Regions from separate parts of the Homo sapiens genome. Here region 1 is linked to region 2. A link means that fine-mapping ties the variant in region 2 to the expression of a gene that starts in the linked region. Tissue or cell type: whole blood. Region 2 holds a variant in brackets; the other region holds the start of a gene. All regions are shown on one strand. Distances are from middle to middle.

The links. PIP is the estimated chance that this variant, and not a neighbour inherited with it, causes the effect.
Region 1: ZNF10 starts here. The variant in region 2 is fine-mapped to the expression of ZNF10 in whole blood (TOPMed, PIP above 0.99).

The regions. Positions count from the first base shown.
Region 1 is chr12:133,126,590-133,134,771 of GRCh38, reverse strand. ZNF10 (zinc finger protein 10) reads right to left here and starts at 4,145. Exons shown (of 5, transcript NM_015394.5): 1 at 4,018-4,145. ZNF891 (zinc finger protein 891) reads left to right here and starts at 4,498. Exons shown (of 2, transcript NM_001277291.2): 1 at 4,498-4,545. RefSeq lists enhancers at 2,511-2,680, 3,763-4,042 and silencers at 4,093-4,332, 4,703-4,882.
Region 2 is chr12:133,093,882-133,102,063 of GRCh38, reverse strand. All of the region lies in intron 4 of ZNF140 (zinc finger protein 140), which reads right to left. Among named protein-coding and RNA genes, the nearest start is that of ZNF140, 17 kb to the right of the region's middle. The variant A/G (reference allele first, on the strand shown) is at 3,535.

The DNA of each region.
Region 1 (8,182 bases), 33 kb before region 2:
TATTTTCTACCAGAGTGGTCACAAAAAATATTTATAATCACTCCATTTTTCTTCTGAGGCAAAGTCAAAACATAGTGCCAGAGAAAGGGAGACTATTTTTATTTTGGTAAACTCTTAAGGACAGAGGGCTATATTAGTTTTCCATTGCTGCCAATTATCAAAACTTTGTGGTTTTCAACAACACACATTTGTTACATAACAATTCTGGAGGTCAGAAGTCTGATACAGGTTTCGGAGGGCTAAAATTAAGGTGTTGGCAGAGCTGTGTTCCTTCTGGAGGCTCTAGAGAAGAATCTATTTCCTTGCCCCCGTCCAGTGTCTAGGACCATCTACACTCCTTGGCTCCTGACCCTTCCTCCACCTGCAAGGCCAGCAATGATACATTTCTCTGTGCCTTTCTTTCATGGTTATATTTCCCTGATTGCTAACCTTCTTATCCCCCTTTTACTTTTTTTTTTTGAGAGGGAGTCTTGCTCTGTTGCCCAGGCTGGAGTGCAGTGAAGCAATCTCGGCTCATTGCAACCGCCGCCTCTTGGGTTCAAGTGATTCTCCTGCCACAGCCTCCCATATAGCTGGGATTACAGGCGCCCACCACCACACTCAGCTAATTTTTTTTTTTTTTTTTTTGTATTTTTAGTAGCGACAGGGTTTCACCAAGTTGGCCAGGCTGGTCTCGAACTCCTGACCTCAGGTGATCTCCCCACCTTGGCCTCCCAAAGTGCTGGGATTACAGGCGTGAGCCACCGTGCCCGGCCACCCAGCTCTTTTACTTTTAAGGACCCCTGTTATTACACTAAGCCCACTGAAATAATCCAGGATAATCTCTCCCCATCTTGAGATCCTTCATTGAATCACAACTGCAAATTTTATTTTGCAGTATAAGGTAAAATATTCCCAGGTGCTGGGGATATCTCTGGGGAGCCATTATTTTGGCTGCCACAAGGGCAGAGATGGGCTGAAAAGAAGCTCCAAGTATCGGCAAGAAGGCTATGAAAGTTACTATTTGAGGCACACGCAGTTCCAAAGCACAGCTCCAATCAAACACTTAGCGTACAAGTTTCACAACAACGTTCTGGACCCTTTTCAACTTAACTCCCACTACACTTGCCCCATATTCTCTAAGGATCACTTTAATGCCATCTATGCTGTGACGCCTTCCCACTATCTCAGAGAGGATCAGTGGTTCTATCATCCGTAAACATGAAGGACTCTGCCCATGCCCTATTCCAGCACTTCAACGCTGCCTTACGGTACCAAGATTTGTCTGTCTCCCTTATGAGATAGTGAACCACTTAAGAATTAGGACAATCTCATTCTAAATCCTGGGAAGAGGCTAGCAAAGTGCTTAGCACTTCATATTCATTCACTCTGACATGTGACTATACTTAACCAGCACTCACATTGACAGGTACAACCTCGTCAGGAACCGCATTTCACTTGGGGACATGGAGTACATGTTCATTAATAAAGAGAACAGGGTCTCTTCAAGTTCTGAATAGGTTTACCAGTATTTGCTTCAGCAAAGGGCAAGGTATGATCAGCAAAAAGGACCCAGCAGCCACAAAGTTAAAACTCGGTAACCAATAGACATGGCAAAGATATACTTAAAGATACAAAAGGCAAAGATCCTGCATCTGTCAAAACTCAGCAAATGTACACTTAAGATTTGCGCTTTTCATGTTATGTAAATTTTACATCTAAAGAAAAATCTAAACAAATATAGAATTCTAATTAATAATACATACGTATTCTGAAATTTTTAAGGAATACGTACCCATGTCAATTTACTTTGAAAAAAATTTAAAAATACAATGAACTGATGGATAAAAAGAGGGACAGATGGGTATGTGTTAAAATTAGGTACAGTAAAATATTAATGGTAGAGTCTAGATGGGAAGGTTTATAAGTATTCACTGTAAACTTCTTTTAATTTAGCTGTATGCTCAAAATTCTTCATAATAAAATTTTGAACAGGAAATGTTAGGATCAGTCAGCAAGGAGATATTGTGTGGAAAGAGGAAAAAATAATGCTCTTGGATGTTCATTACGAGTCAAAGAGGCACATACACAGACAAAGGTGGCCTATATCATATCTTGTCCCAACCTTGCTTCATAGCCAGAAGAATTAAAAGCCCTGGCTGACATGAGACATGCTAGAAAGAGTACTGCTGATGAAAGTAAAAGAGTCTCTTGTAGGCACAACAGAGATATTAACAATAAGAAATTTCTTTTTCCTTAAAATACTTTTTTTTTGAGACGGAGTTTCGCTCTTGTTGCTCTTGTTAATTTAAGATGTGTATCTCAAATCTCTGCCCTTGTGACTGGCATATGTTAATTAGCTGGGCATGGTGGCTGGCGCCTGTAATCCCAGCTACTAGGGAGGTTGAGGCAGGAGAATTGCTTGAACCCAGGAGGCAGAGGTTGCAGTGAGCCAAGATCGAGCCATTGCACTCCAGCATGGGCAACAAGAACAAAACTCTATCTCAAAAAAAAAAAAAAAAATTCTCAGATTTTCTTGACAATTGAATATAATCTATAAACAGAACTGTTTTTATTCTTACTCATCCTTTATTCTTCTAGTAAGAATTGCCTAGTAAGGTTTTGAAGTTTTTCTCATATAGTTCACATATATTTCTAGCTAAAATTATTTTCTTCCTATTGTGAAGACTTTTTAAAAATAAAAGTATGTGCTAACTTGTTGAGGACGGCAATCAATCTATTAGCTTATATATTTCCTTTTCAGTCACTTTACTACAAATTATTGATAGTAATTGAATCTCTTCTCATTTTGGGGACTTAATTAGTTAATTAATTAACAAGGATAATTTTGTAATCTCTTTTCCAGAAGGTAAGCCTCATATCTACTTAAATATTGTCCTAAGTAGAATTTCCAGACAGTGCTTATATAAAATACTGATAAGCAGAAATTCTCATTTAATTTATGATGTGTATCTCAAATCTCTGCCCTTGTGACTAGCATATACTAAGAGCTAAAGAAATGCATGCTGAGAGAAGTAATCAAAAAACAAATGTAACTTTCAAAAAGAGGCAGGAGCGTGTGCAACTTACCATCCAAGAGGCTTTGGAAGATGGGGGACAATTTTAGTAAAACAGAAGAGATTAGTTATGTCACAAGAGAAAAGTTAGTGTGGAGGTAATTTTCAAAAGGGTAGGGAGGATTTGTGCTATCCAGTTCTCGGAGACCTAACTGCAGTCATTTCTAACCTAATAACACTTGTTGGCTGGCATTCTGGGTGACATCCTGCCTTCCCTTTTACTTTTTTTTTTTTAATTAACAGTATCTTTCTGCAATTAATGTATAGCTGGAATTGAAATTGTTCACCTTCTGCATACACTTTGGGTGGGATCTACGTACGAAATCTTGATGTTAACCTTATCTTTGACACTCATATTATGTGTTAGATGGCGTATATATATCTAGTGTCAAGGGAAAATAAAAATATAGTAATTAAACTTATGATCTGTCTCTGAAAATAAAAAAAATAGATTAACCACACAAACACGCCTTCAGTTAATCTATCTGATTAAAAAACAAAACAAAGATGAGGAAGCTAAGAGCTAGAGATGCAGGATTTGTTTTTAAAAGACCACACACGAATCGGCGTCACTATTTCAACAAATACTAGAAAGGCCATATGCAAAATTTTAAACATCTATCCCAGCTGGGGGGAAAAATGGAAGTTAGACTAGAAGAAACCTTATTTTGTATTACTGAAAATATCTGGTTCAAACTTACCACCACCGCCGCCCACTCTGCGTCAATCTCCAGGTGCAGCCGTTATTCTCCACAGAACAAGAACGTCCGCCGTGAACGCCGGGGCCGCGCGAGGGACAGAAAGTGACTGAGGCAAGGGGTGACGATCACCGTTAAATTTTTTCATTGACGAAATTACCGTCTACCTAGAAATACGAAGCTAATACACTGCTACATTACTAAAGGGCTCAACACGCGCCTGATGACGATGCAAACACAAAATTCAGCACTTTCGTATATACCTGCAATAAGCAACTAGAAGGTTCGATGGGAGAAAGCGATCCCGTCACAAAGGCAGCAGCAACAGCAAAACAGAGAACGCGACTCCATTCACCAGCGGAGCGCGAAGAGCGGCGTCAGAGGTGAGTCTGAGGCCGGCTCGGCACGGCGGCGCCACCTCCCCGTGGCCTGACGTCACGCACGCGCACGCGCCCCGCCCCCATTGGTCCTACGCCCGCCCCTGCTGCGAACGCACGCACACGCACCCACAACACACACCGTTACGCACGCGCCCCAGCCTGGCGTTCAGGCCACGCTCCGCCCCCAGCCCGTCAGCCGCGCGCCCCGGGACCCTAGAGCCGGCGATTCGTCGCCGGCGCCGCAGCCGCCACTCTGTGCCGGACCCTGCGGGCCTTCGGCCCAGAGCGCGTCCGTGACGCACAGACCAGGCCCCTCTGCGGGGCGGCGCAGGAGCTCCTGGGAAACGTAGTTCGGCCTCGCGTCCCCCTCGGGCGGGACCGCGGACGCCTGGAGGCAGGCACTGAGGACGGGTGAGCATGCGGGCCTGTGGCTCGTTCACCCGGGACAAGTCCCTCGTGGGATCAGCCTGGCCCGCTGAGTTCTCCTGCGTGCAGGGATCGCCTCACGGGAGTCTGAGCAGCAGGGAGCCTGCCCGGGAGGCGGCGGTGGGAGAGGCCCTTGAGGGAGGAGGGGCTACTTACCGGGTGCGAGTGGAGCGCGGGGAGCGAGTGGGGACCAGGGGCGCGCGGGGCGGAGGGGTCCCGGGCTGGCTGCGGGTGCCACGCAGGGAGCGCTGGGGGGCCGGGGATGCGCGTTTGCCTCCTTCTCTAAGCAACACGGGAGGGCTAAAGGGTGCACGCCTCTGTCCAGCAGCCTCTCTTGAATCTCTAAACCTAGTAATGAGTTGAATCACAGCCATCGTTTTTTTCACCTATTGCCTTATACTGTGGTTGAATGCGATATGGTTTTATTTCTTTAATACTCTGGTGTATTCAATTGGCTGTTTCCCTTTGACTTCACCTATGCTCACAAGATTGTGTTTTAATCTTTTTGTGTACTATCCTTGCCCGTTATACTAACAAGATTTTACAAGCTTCATGAATAATTTGGACAGCACAGTCTCTCTTCTATTCTGTAAAACAGGTCACCACCCCTCACCGCCCCCCGCCCGCCTCCAAAAGTTTGGTGCTATTTGGTCTTAAAATATTTAGTACGCATTTAACTTCTGACTCAATTTTTTTTTTTTTTTTTTTTGAGACAGAGTTTCGCTCTTTGTTGCCCAGGCTGGAGTGCAATGGCGCCATCTTGGCTCACAGCAACCTCCGCCTCCCGGGTTCAAGTGATTCTTCTGCCTCAGTCTTGTGAGTTGCCGGGATTACAGACATGAGCCACCACGCCCAGCTAATTCTGTATTTTTAGTGGAGATGGGGTTTCTCCATGTTGGTCAGGCTGGTCTGGAACTCCCGACCTCAGGTGATCAGCCTGCCTCGGCCTCCCAAAGCGCTGAGATTACAAGCGTGAGCCACCGCACCCGGCCCTGACTCAATTTTTTAAAAAGTCTCATTGATTAGGTTTTTTAGTTCGTATTCTGTTTTAGATACCTTTCCTAGATAATTGTTTTTAATCTAATTTTTCAAATTTATTGGCATAAAATTGCCCATGCTATTTTATCACTGTAAGTAATTTCTATGGTGATTTTTAAAATCACCACTTTTTAATATTTTACTGCTGTAATTGTTATTTTTTTCTTTTTTGAACCTAATTATCTAGGCCTTTTTTTCTTGATTACTCCTATAAGGTATATGTGTACATAGTCTTTTCAAAAATGTAGATTTGGTTTTGGTTTTTTTGTTGTTTTGTTTTGGTCTTTTTTGGGGAGGGGGGTCCTATTACAGTAAGTTTTGCTCTTAATTTTTAAATTTTTCTTTTACTTTGTCTCTGTTTTTCTACTTTTTTTTTTTTTTCGAGACAGAGTTTCACTCTGTCTCCAGGCTGGAGTGCAGTGGCGTGATCTCGGCTCACTGTAGCCTCTACCACCCGGATTCAAGCGATTCTCCTGCCTCAGGCCCCACCACGCCCGGCTAATCCAGCTAATTTTTGTTTTTGTTTGTTTGTTTGTTTTTGAGACAGAGTCTCTCTCTCTCGCCCAGGCGGGAATGCAATGGCAGGATCTCTGCTCACTGCAACTTCCACATCCCGGGTTCAAGCCATTCTCCTGCCTCAGCCTCTGGAATAGCTGGGATCACAGGCGCACACTGCCATGCCCGGTTAATTTTTTGTATTTTTTAGTAGAGACGGGGTTTCACGGTGTTGCCCAGGCTGGTCTCGAACTCTTCAGCTCAGGCAATCCGCCCGCCTTGGCCTCCCAAAGTGCTAGGATTACAGGCGTGAGCCACCGTGCCTGGCCATCTGCTTCTTGATTTGACTGGGTAATTAATTTACTACTCTTTATTTGTGCTCCAAGAAATGTGTGTGTACATTTTTAAGAGCTGAATATGTTAAAAGACTCATAATAAAAACAGGAAACACCTTAACCCCATCTCTTCCCAGTGGCAACCACTTGGAAATATTTAAGCAGTTCTGGCTTCGAACTCCTCTCAGTATTTTTTTATTCACCGATTTGTGACATTATTTTAAAATTTTTATCATGTTAAATAAGAACTTTGGCTGCCTTCTTTCTACATCCTTAAATCACAATGTAATTATTTTACAAATATTATAATGTAGTTCTCCCACAAATTTTGGATAAATATGTTCAGTGTTTTCATTTGATGACTACTCTTTAGTACTGAGCCATAATATGTTTCTTTCTTGTGCAAGGTTTACCTTTCTTGTTTTTAATGACTGCCTTTTTTATTCATTTGCTTAGTTTTTCTTAAATCTATGTAAAATGTCTTTTGGTTCCATTTTCCTCAAGGGCTAATCTGTCATACAGTCTTATCACTTTTCTCCTTTCCTGGACATCCCCCTGCAATGTAGATTGATCAGTTACTCTGTAGGCATGCAGCACGCTGGCATACCACTGGGCTTCCCTTTTGCCCTCATCAATTTCCTCATCTCACCTCTGTGTTAAATCTCCTGTTTCCTGTAAAGCACTTCTATTCCTGTTTGGTGGATTGTAATCTTAACTGCCTTGAAGAAAGGGTCCATATGATCTACATATATTAAAGTTGTAGAAATGATTAGAAATTACTTTTTCCTCACATTTGTGTGGTGTTTTCACCGAGTATACACATCTCAATAGGAAATTACTTTCCATTAGAATTTTGAAAGCCAGTGAAGCTAGATAGGAAATGGAGCAGTGTTACTGTTACTGTTGAGAAGTCCTATTTCATACCTTGTTCTTTTATGTGTAATCTGTTTATCATCTCTTGGAGCTCTTTGGTATTCAAAAATTTCATGATGATGTGTGTTCTAATTATTTAAAGAAATTACTTGCTTTGATGGATCAGTTCTTAGATACTGTGTTTTTTTAAGGAATAAGAAGTTTCTGGCCGGGCACCGTGGCTCACGCCTGTAATCCCAACATTTTGGGAGGCCGAGGTGGGTGGATCATGAGGTCAGGAGTTCAAGACCAGGCTGGCCAAGATGGTGAAACCCCATCTCTACTACTAAAAATAAGAAAATTAGCCGGGCGTGGTGGCCGGCGCCTGTAATCCCAGCTACTTCGGAGGCTGAGGCAGAGAATTGCTTAAACCCGGGAGGCAGAGGTTTCAGTGAGCCGAGATTGTGCCACTGCACTCCAGCTTGGGCGACTCCGTCTCAAAAAAAAAAAAAAAAAAAAAAAGTTTTCCTGTACTTGTTTGTTTCTTCCTCTTGTTTTTTCTTTCTGGAACTCTGAGTAATCTGGGGTACCTTAAATTGCTCATATAGTGGTCTTTTTTTATTTATTCTTACTTTTTCTTTTAGATCAGCTTTACTTATTTATTCATTTATTTATTGAAACAGAGTCTCACTGTGTTGCCCAGGCTGGAGTGCAGTGGCACATCTCGGCTCACTGCAGCCTCCACCTCTTGGGTTCAAGCATTTCTCCTGCTTCAGCCTCCCGAGTAGCTGGGATTACAGGTGTGCACCAACACATCTAGCTTTTTTTTTTTTTTGTATTTTTATTTGAGACGGGGTTTCACTGTGTTGGCCAGGCTGGTCTTAGAATTCTGACCTGAAGTG
Region 2 (8,182 bases):
ACACCTTACCACTACATTACAAAAGGCAGTTCCTTTTACTCAGTACATCATGTCCACCCTTCAATGTAAAATTATGAGGTATACTAAATGGCAAAAAAAAAAAAGTTTGAACAGACTGAACAAGCATCAGAATCTGAGACAGATACGGTAGGAATGTTGGAATTATCAGTCCAGGAACTTAAGAAACTATGATTAATATGCTAACAGTTTTACTGGGAAAAAGTATACAAGATGCAAGATGAGATGGATAATGTAAGGAGATAAATGAAAATTTTAAGAAAGAATCAAAAGGAAATACTAGAAATAAAAATTCCTGTAATGGGCCAGGTGCAGTGGCTCACGCCTGTAATCCCAGCACTTTGGGAGGTGGAGGCTGGCAGATCACAAGGTCAGGAGATCAAGACCATCCTGGCTAACACAGTGAAACCCGTCTCTACTAAAAATACAAAAAATTAGCCGGGCGTGGTAGCGACTGCCTGTAGTCCCAGCTACTCGGGAGGCTGAGGCAGGAGAATGGCGTGAACCCGGGAGGTGGAGCTTGCAGTAAGCTGAGATCGCGCCACTGCACTCCAGCCTGGGTGACAGAGCGAGACTCCATCTCAAAAGAATTCCTGTAATGAAAATAAAGAATGCCTTCAATGGGCTCATAAGTATTCTGTGTAGATATCTCAATAGAAACGTCCAAAACTGAAAAACAGATAAAATATTGAGGGAAAAAAAAGGAACAGATTATCCAAGAACTGTAGGACAACTACAAATGATGTAATATACGCATAACAGAAATACTAAAAAAGAAGGAAGAACAGAAGCAGTCTTTGAGGAAATAATGACGGAGAATTTCCCCAAATTAATGTCATAAACCAAACCACAGATGGAGGAAACACAGAGAACACCAAGCAAGGTAAGTGCCCTCTCGCCCCTCACAAAAACCCCTACAATTAGGTATATTATATTCCAATTTCAGAAAATCAAATACAAAGAAAAAAGAAGTCAAAGGAAAAAAACCTTACCTATAAAGGAACAAGGCTGGGAATTACAGTAGTCCTCTCCTCTGTAGTTTTTCACCACTTCAGTTACCTTTGTTCAATATTTAAAAGTATTAAATAGAAAATTCCAGAAATAATTCATGTTTAAACTGTACACCATTCTGAGTAGTGTGACGTCTCGCACCATCCTGCTCCACCCCACCCCGAATGTGAATTGTCCTGGCATATCTATGCTGCGAATGCTACCCACCTGTTAGTCACTTAGGAGCTGTCAGATCACCTGATGCAGTATCGTAGTGCTTGTGTTCAACTGACCCTTATTTTACTTAATCATGGCCCCAAAGCACAAGAATAGTGATGCTGACAATTCAGATATGCCAAAAAGAAGCTACAAAGTGCTTCCTTAATGGGAAAATGTGAAATTTCTTCTCCACTCAATAAGGAAAAACTCTCTCATATGCTGAGGTTGCTAAGATTACAGCAGAATGAGTCTTCTATTCATATGAAGAAGAAAAAAAGCAACTCAGCTAGTTTCGCTGTTGCACCTCAAACTGCTAAAGTTGCAACCACAAGTGCATAAGTGCTTAGTTAAGGTGTAAAAGGGCCAGGCAAGGTGGCTCATGCCTGTCATCCCAGAATTTTGGGAGGCCAAGACAAGGGGATTGCCTAAGTGCTTGAGGCCAGAAGTTTGCAACCAGCTGGGCAAGATATGGAGCACCCATCTCTAAAAAAATTTTTTTAAATTAGCCAAGTGTGGTGGTATGCACCTGTGGTCCCAGCTACTCAGGAGGTTGAGGTGAAAGGATCGCTTAAGCCCAGGAGCTCGAGGCTGCAGTGAGCTATGATAACACCACTGCACTCCAGCCTGGGTGACAAAGTAAGACCCTGCCAAAAAAAAAAAAAAAAAAAAAAAAAAACGGAAAAGGCATTAAATTTTTGGATGGAAGACATGAACAGAAACATACTCTAACCAATGGCAATGAGGTTCAATACTATCTGCATTTTCAGGCATCCATCGGAGGTTGTGGAAAATATCCCCTGAAGATAGGGGAGGATTACCGTACATCAGATCTTCTCAGAAACCAAGAAAAAGAACAAGGAGAGTGGAGTGAAATATTTGAAGTGCTGAGAGAAAAAAAAAAAACTCTCAAGCCCACAATTCTGTAGCCTGTGAGATTATCCTTCAAAAGTGAAGGAGAAATTACTCTCTTAGAAAAATAAAAGTTTTTTTAAGGAATTTGTTGCCAGTACACCTGCCCTGCAAGAAATGTTGAAAGAAGTTCTTCAGAGAGGTGGAAAATGATACAGGTCAGAAACTCAGACCTACATGAAGAAAGGAATAGCATTTAAGAAGAAATAAGTAAAAGTAAAATAAATATTTTATTTTTTTAAAAGACAGGGTCTTGCTTTATTGCCCAGGTTACAGAAGAGTGTTGGGATTATATTTCACTAGAGCCTCAAATTCCTGGGCTCAAGCACCTCCCACCCAAGCCTCCCAAAGTACTGAGATTCCAAGTGTGAGCCACTGCACCCAGCCTTAGTTTTCTTATTCTTAATTAACCTCACAGATAACAGCTTGTTCAAAATAATAACAATGTATTGGCCGGGCACAGTGGCTCATGCCTGTAATCCCAGCACTTTGGAAGGCTAAGGCCGGCAGATCACCTGAGGTCAGGAGTTTGAGACCAGCCTGGCCAACACGGTGAAACCCCGTCTCTACTAAAAATACAAAAATTAGCCGGACGTGGTGGTGTGCACCTGTAATCCCAGTTACCCAGGAAGGAAGCTGAGGCAGGACAATGTCTGGAACCCGGGAGGCAGAGGCTGCAGTGAGCCAAGATCATGCCATGGCACTCCAGCCTGGGTGACAGAGCAAGACTCCATCTCAAAAAATAAAATACAAGGCTGGGCACGTTGGCTCACGCCTGTAATCCCAGCACTTTGGGAGGCCGAGGCGGGCAGATCACAAGGTCTAGGAGTTGGAGACCAGCCTGGCCAATATGGTGACACCCCGTCTCTACTAAATATACAAAAATTAGCTGAGCGTGGTGGCTCGCGCCTGTAGTCCCAGCTACTTAGGAGGCTGAGGCAGAAGAATCGCTTAAACCCAGGAGGCGGATGAGCCAAGATAGTGCCACTGCACTCCAGCCTGGGTGACAGAGCAAGACTCTGTCTCAAAAATAAATAAATAAAATAAAATACAAAAAATTAGCCAGGCATGGTGGCACACACCTATAGTCCCAGCTACTCAGGAGGCTGATAGGAGAATCGCTTGGACCCGGGAGGCAGAGGTTGCAGTGAGCCAAGATCGTGCCACTGCACTCCAGCCTGGGCAACAGAGCGAGACTCTGTCTCAAAAAAATAATGATAATAACAATGTATTTTATGATTATAGCTTACATATAAGTGAAATGAATGACAACAGTGATACTAAGGACTGGAGGAAAAAATGAGAAATATTTTATTATAAGGTACTTGCACTACACATGAAGTGGCACAGTATTATTTGAAAGTAGGGTTGGATTATTTATAAATGTAGGCTGGGCAT[A/G]GTGGCTCATGCCTGTAATCCTAGCACTTTGGGAGGCCAAGGCAGGTGGATTACTTAAGGTCAGGAGTTTGAGACCAGCCTGGCCAACATGGCAAAACCCTATCTCTACTAAAAATGCAGACCATTAGCCAGGCATGGTAGCACGCATGCCTGTAATCCCAGCTACTATGGAGGTTGAGGCAGGAGGATCTGTTGAACTCGGGAGGTGGAGGCTGCAGTGAGGAGAGATCATGCCACTGCATTCCAGCCTGGGTGACAGAACAAGACTCCATCTCAAAAAAAAGAATGTATATTGCAAACTTTAGGACAACCATGAGAAAAAGAAGTATAATCAATATGCTAAGAAAGAAGAGAAAATGAAATCATATAAAATGCTCAATAAAAAACACAAAAGGGGGCTGGGTGCGTAGGCTCACGCCTGTAATCCCAGCACTTTGGGAGGTCGAGGTGGGCAGATCACCTGAGGTCAGGAGTTAGAGACCAGCCTGGCCAACATGGTGAAATCCCGTCTCTACTAAAAATACAAAAATTAGCCAGGTGTGGTGGTGGGCACCTGTAATCTCAGCTACATAGGAGGCTGAGGCAGAATTGCTTGAACCCAGGAGGGGGAGGTCGCAGTGAGCCAAGATTGCGCCACTGCACTCCAGTCTGGGCTACAGAGTAAGACTTCATCTCAAAAACACACACACACACACACACACACACACACATGGTTAGATGTGGTGCCTCATGCATATAATCCCAGCACATTGGGAGACTGAGGCAAAAGGATCTCTTGAGCCCAAGAATTTGAGACAGCAGTGAGCTATGATTGTATCATTGCACTCTATCCTGGGAAATGGGGAGATCCTGTCTCTAAAGAAATAAGTAATTTTTTTTTTTTTTTTGAGACAGAGTCTCGCTCTGTTGCCCAGGCTGGAGTGCAGTGGTGTGATCTCGGCTCACTGCAACCTCCGCCTCCCGGGTTCACGCCATTCTCGTGCCTCAGCCTCCCGAGTAGCTGGGACTATAGGTGCCCACCACCACACCTGGCTAATATTTTGTACTTTTAGTAGAGACGAGGTTTCATCATGTTAGCCAGGATGGTCTCAATCTCCTGAACTCATGATCTGCCCACCTTGGCCTCCCATAGTGCCAGGATTACAGGCGTGAGCCACCACACCCAGCCAAAAATTAAATAAATTTTAAAAATGAAGGTCAACAGTCTAAATACACTAACTTAAGACATTGTCAGAGTGCATCACAAAACAAGACCCAACTATATGTTGTGTACAAGAAACCTAGTTTAAATATGAAGATGCATATAGATTTAGAATAAGTGAGTACAGAAAGGTATACCATACTAACACTTATCAAAAGAAAGAGACGTAGCTAAATTAATTTCAGACACAGCAGACTTCAGAGCAAGGTTAAAGAAGAGCATTGCATAATGATAAAGGAGTCAATACTCCAAGAAAGAAATCATAAAAATCCTTAGTGTGCATGTGCCTAACAACAAACCATCAAAATACATTAGGCAGAGCCTGATAAAACAGCAAGGAGAAACAGATGAATGCACTATTACACTTGGGGACTTCAACACCCCTCTTTCAGAACTGGACAGATCCAGCAGGCAGAAAATCGTTAAGAACACAGCTGAACTTAACAGCACCATCAATCAACTGATATCAGTAGACTACTTCATTCAACAGATTACACATTCATCTCCAATTCCCAAGACATTCACGAAGATAGACGCAATTCTTAGTCATAACACACATCTTAACAAATTTCAAAGAATAGAAATCATATAATATGTGCTGTCAGACCACAATGGAATGAAACCAGAAATCAGTAACAGAAAGATTAAAAGGAAAATCTCAAAACACATGGATATTGAACAACACACTTCTAAGTAACACAAACAAGAAATCTGAAACTTAAAAATATGTTGAACTAAATGAAAATGAAAATACAACTTATTTCAGTGGGATAATCAGTGGGATGCAGTGAAAGCAGTGCTTAAAGGAAAATTTATAGCATTGAATTAATATATTAGAAAAAATGTAAATTGTACGGAAAAGAGAGGGAGATCAGACTGTCACTGTACCTATGTAGAAAGGGAAGACATAAGAGACTCCATTTTGAAAAAGACCTGTACTTTAAACAATTGCTTTGCTGAGATGTTGTTAATTTGTAGCTTTCCCCAGCCACTTTGACCCAACCTGGAGCTCACAAAAACGTGTTGTATAAAATCAATGTTTAAGGGATCTAGGGCTGTGCAGGACGTGCCTTGTTAACAAAATGTTTACAAGCAGTATACTTGGTAAAAGTCATCGCCATTCTCTAGTCTCAATAAACCAGGGGCACATGCACTGCAGAAAGCCACAGGGACCTCTGCCCTTGGAAGCGGGGTATTGTCCAAGGTTTCTCCCCATGTGATAGTCTGAAATATGGCCTCGTGGGATGAGAAAGACCTGACCATCCCCCAGCCCGACACCCATAAAGGGTCTGTGCTGAGGTGGATTGGTAAAAGAGGAAAGCCTCTTGCAGTTGAGATAGAGGAAGGCCACTGTCTCCTGCCTGCCCCTGGGAACTGAATGTCTCGGTATAAAACCCGATTGTACATTTGTTCAATTCTGAGATAGTAGCAAAACCGCCCTATGGTGGGAGGCGAGATATGTTTGCAGTAATGCTGCCTTGTTATTCTTTACTCCGCTGAGATGTTTGGGTGGAGAGAAACATAAATCTGGATTACGTGCACATCCAGGCATAGTACCTTCCCTTAAACCTAATTATGACATAGATTCTTTTGCTCACATGTTTTTTGCTGACCTTCTCCTTATTATCACCCTGCTCTCCTACTACATTCCTTTTTGCTGAAATAATGAAAATAATAATAAAAACTGAGGGAACTCAGAGGCCGGTGCTGGTGCAGGTCCTTGGTATGCTGATGCCGGTCCCCTGGGCCCACTGTTGTTTCTCTATACTTTGTCTCTGTGTCTTCTTTCTTTTCTCAGTCTCTCATCCCACCCGACTAGAAATACCCACAGGTGTGGAGGGGCAGGCCACCCCTTCATCTGGCGCCCGATGTGGGGGCCTTTCTCTAGGGTGAAGGTATGCTAAGAACGTGAGCATTGAGGACAGCCGACGAGAGATTCCCAAGTACATCCACAGTCAGCCTTGCGGTAAGCTTGTGCGCTCGGAGGAATCCAGGGTAACAATGGGGCAAACTGCAAGTAAATATGCCTCTTATCTCAGCTTCATTAAAATTCTCTTAAGAAGAGGGGGAGTTAAAGCTTCTACAGAAAATCTAATTACGCTATTTCAAACAATAGAACAATTCTGCCCATGGTTTCCAGAACAGGGAACTTTAGATTTAAAAGATTGGGAAAAAATTGGCAAAGAATTAAAACAAGCAACTAGGGAAGGTAAAATCATCCCACGTGCAGTATGGAATGATTGGGCTATTATTAAAGCAACTTTAGAACCATTTCAAACAGAAGAAGTTAGAGTTTCAGTTTCTGATGCCCCTGAAAGCTGTGTAATAGATTGTGAAGAGGCAGAAACAGAGTTCAAGAAAGGAACAGAAAGTTCACATGGTAAAAATGTAGCAGAGCCAGTAATGGCTCGGTCAACGCAAAATGTTGACTACAATCAATTACAGGAGGTAATATATCCTGAAACATTAAAATTAAAAGGAAAAAGTCCAGAACCATCAGGGCTGTTGGGGTTAAAAGCACGATGGCCACCTCCTCCTCAGCCGAGTGAGTGCTGGGGGAGGGAGCCTGAAACTACGCTTGCTGCGACTTGGCTCGTGGCACTCATTATTGCCCAACCTGCAGTTCACTACGGTGAAGGAGCAATTCAGACTTGCCCTGCAGCTTCCTGTATGGGTCAAAGAGTGGCCGCTCTCTAAGGAAAAGTTGGGGGTGTTACATAAAATAGTTAAAAAACTATTTTAAATAGGATGTGTTCCACCCACTTTCTCTCTTTAGAATTCTCCTGTGTTTGTAATTCAGAAAAAATCAGGCAGATGGTGCATGCTAACTGATTTGAGAGCCATTAATGCAGCAATTCAACCCATGGGGCCTCTCCAACCTGGGCTGCCCTCTCCGGCCATGACCCCCAAAGATTGGCTTTTAATTATAATTGATTCAAAGGATTGCTTTTTTACCATTCCTGTGGCAAAACAGGATTTTGAAAAATTTGCTTTTACTATACCAGCCGTAAATAATAAAGAACCAGCCACCAGATTTCAGTGGAAAGTGTTGCCTCAGGGAATGCTTAATAGTCCAACTATTTGTCAGACTTTTGTAGCTCAAGTTCTTCAACCAATGAGAGACAAGTTTTCAGACTGTTGTATTATTCATTATGTTGATAATATTTTGTGTGCTCCAGAAACCAGAGACAAATTAATTGACTGTTACACATTTCTGCAGACAGAGGTTGCAAACGCAGGCCTGACAATATCATCTGATAAAATTCAGACCTCCACTCCTTTTCATTATTTGGGAAAGACCAACAGAGAGAAAAGTAAAACTGGGGAGAAAAAGAGAAAGAAAAAGAGACTAAGTGTGAAGGAGAGAGGACACAGGGGATAACAGACAGAGAGACTGGAAAAGACAGAGATCAGAGAAAGACACAGAAAGTGAGACTGGCGAGAGAG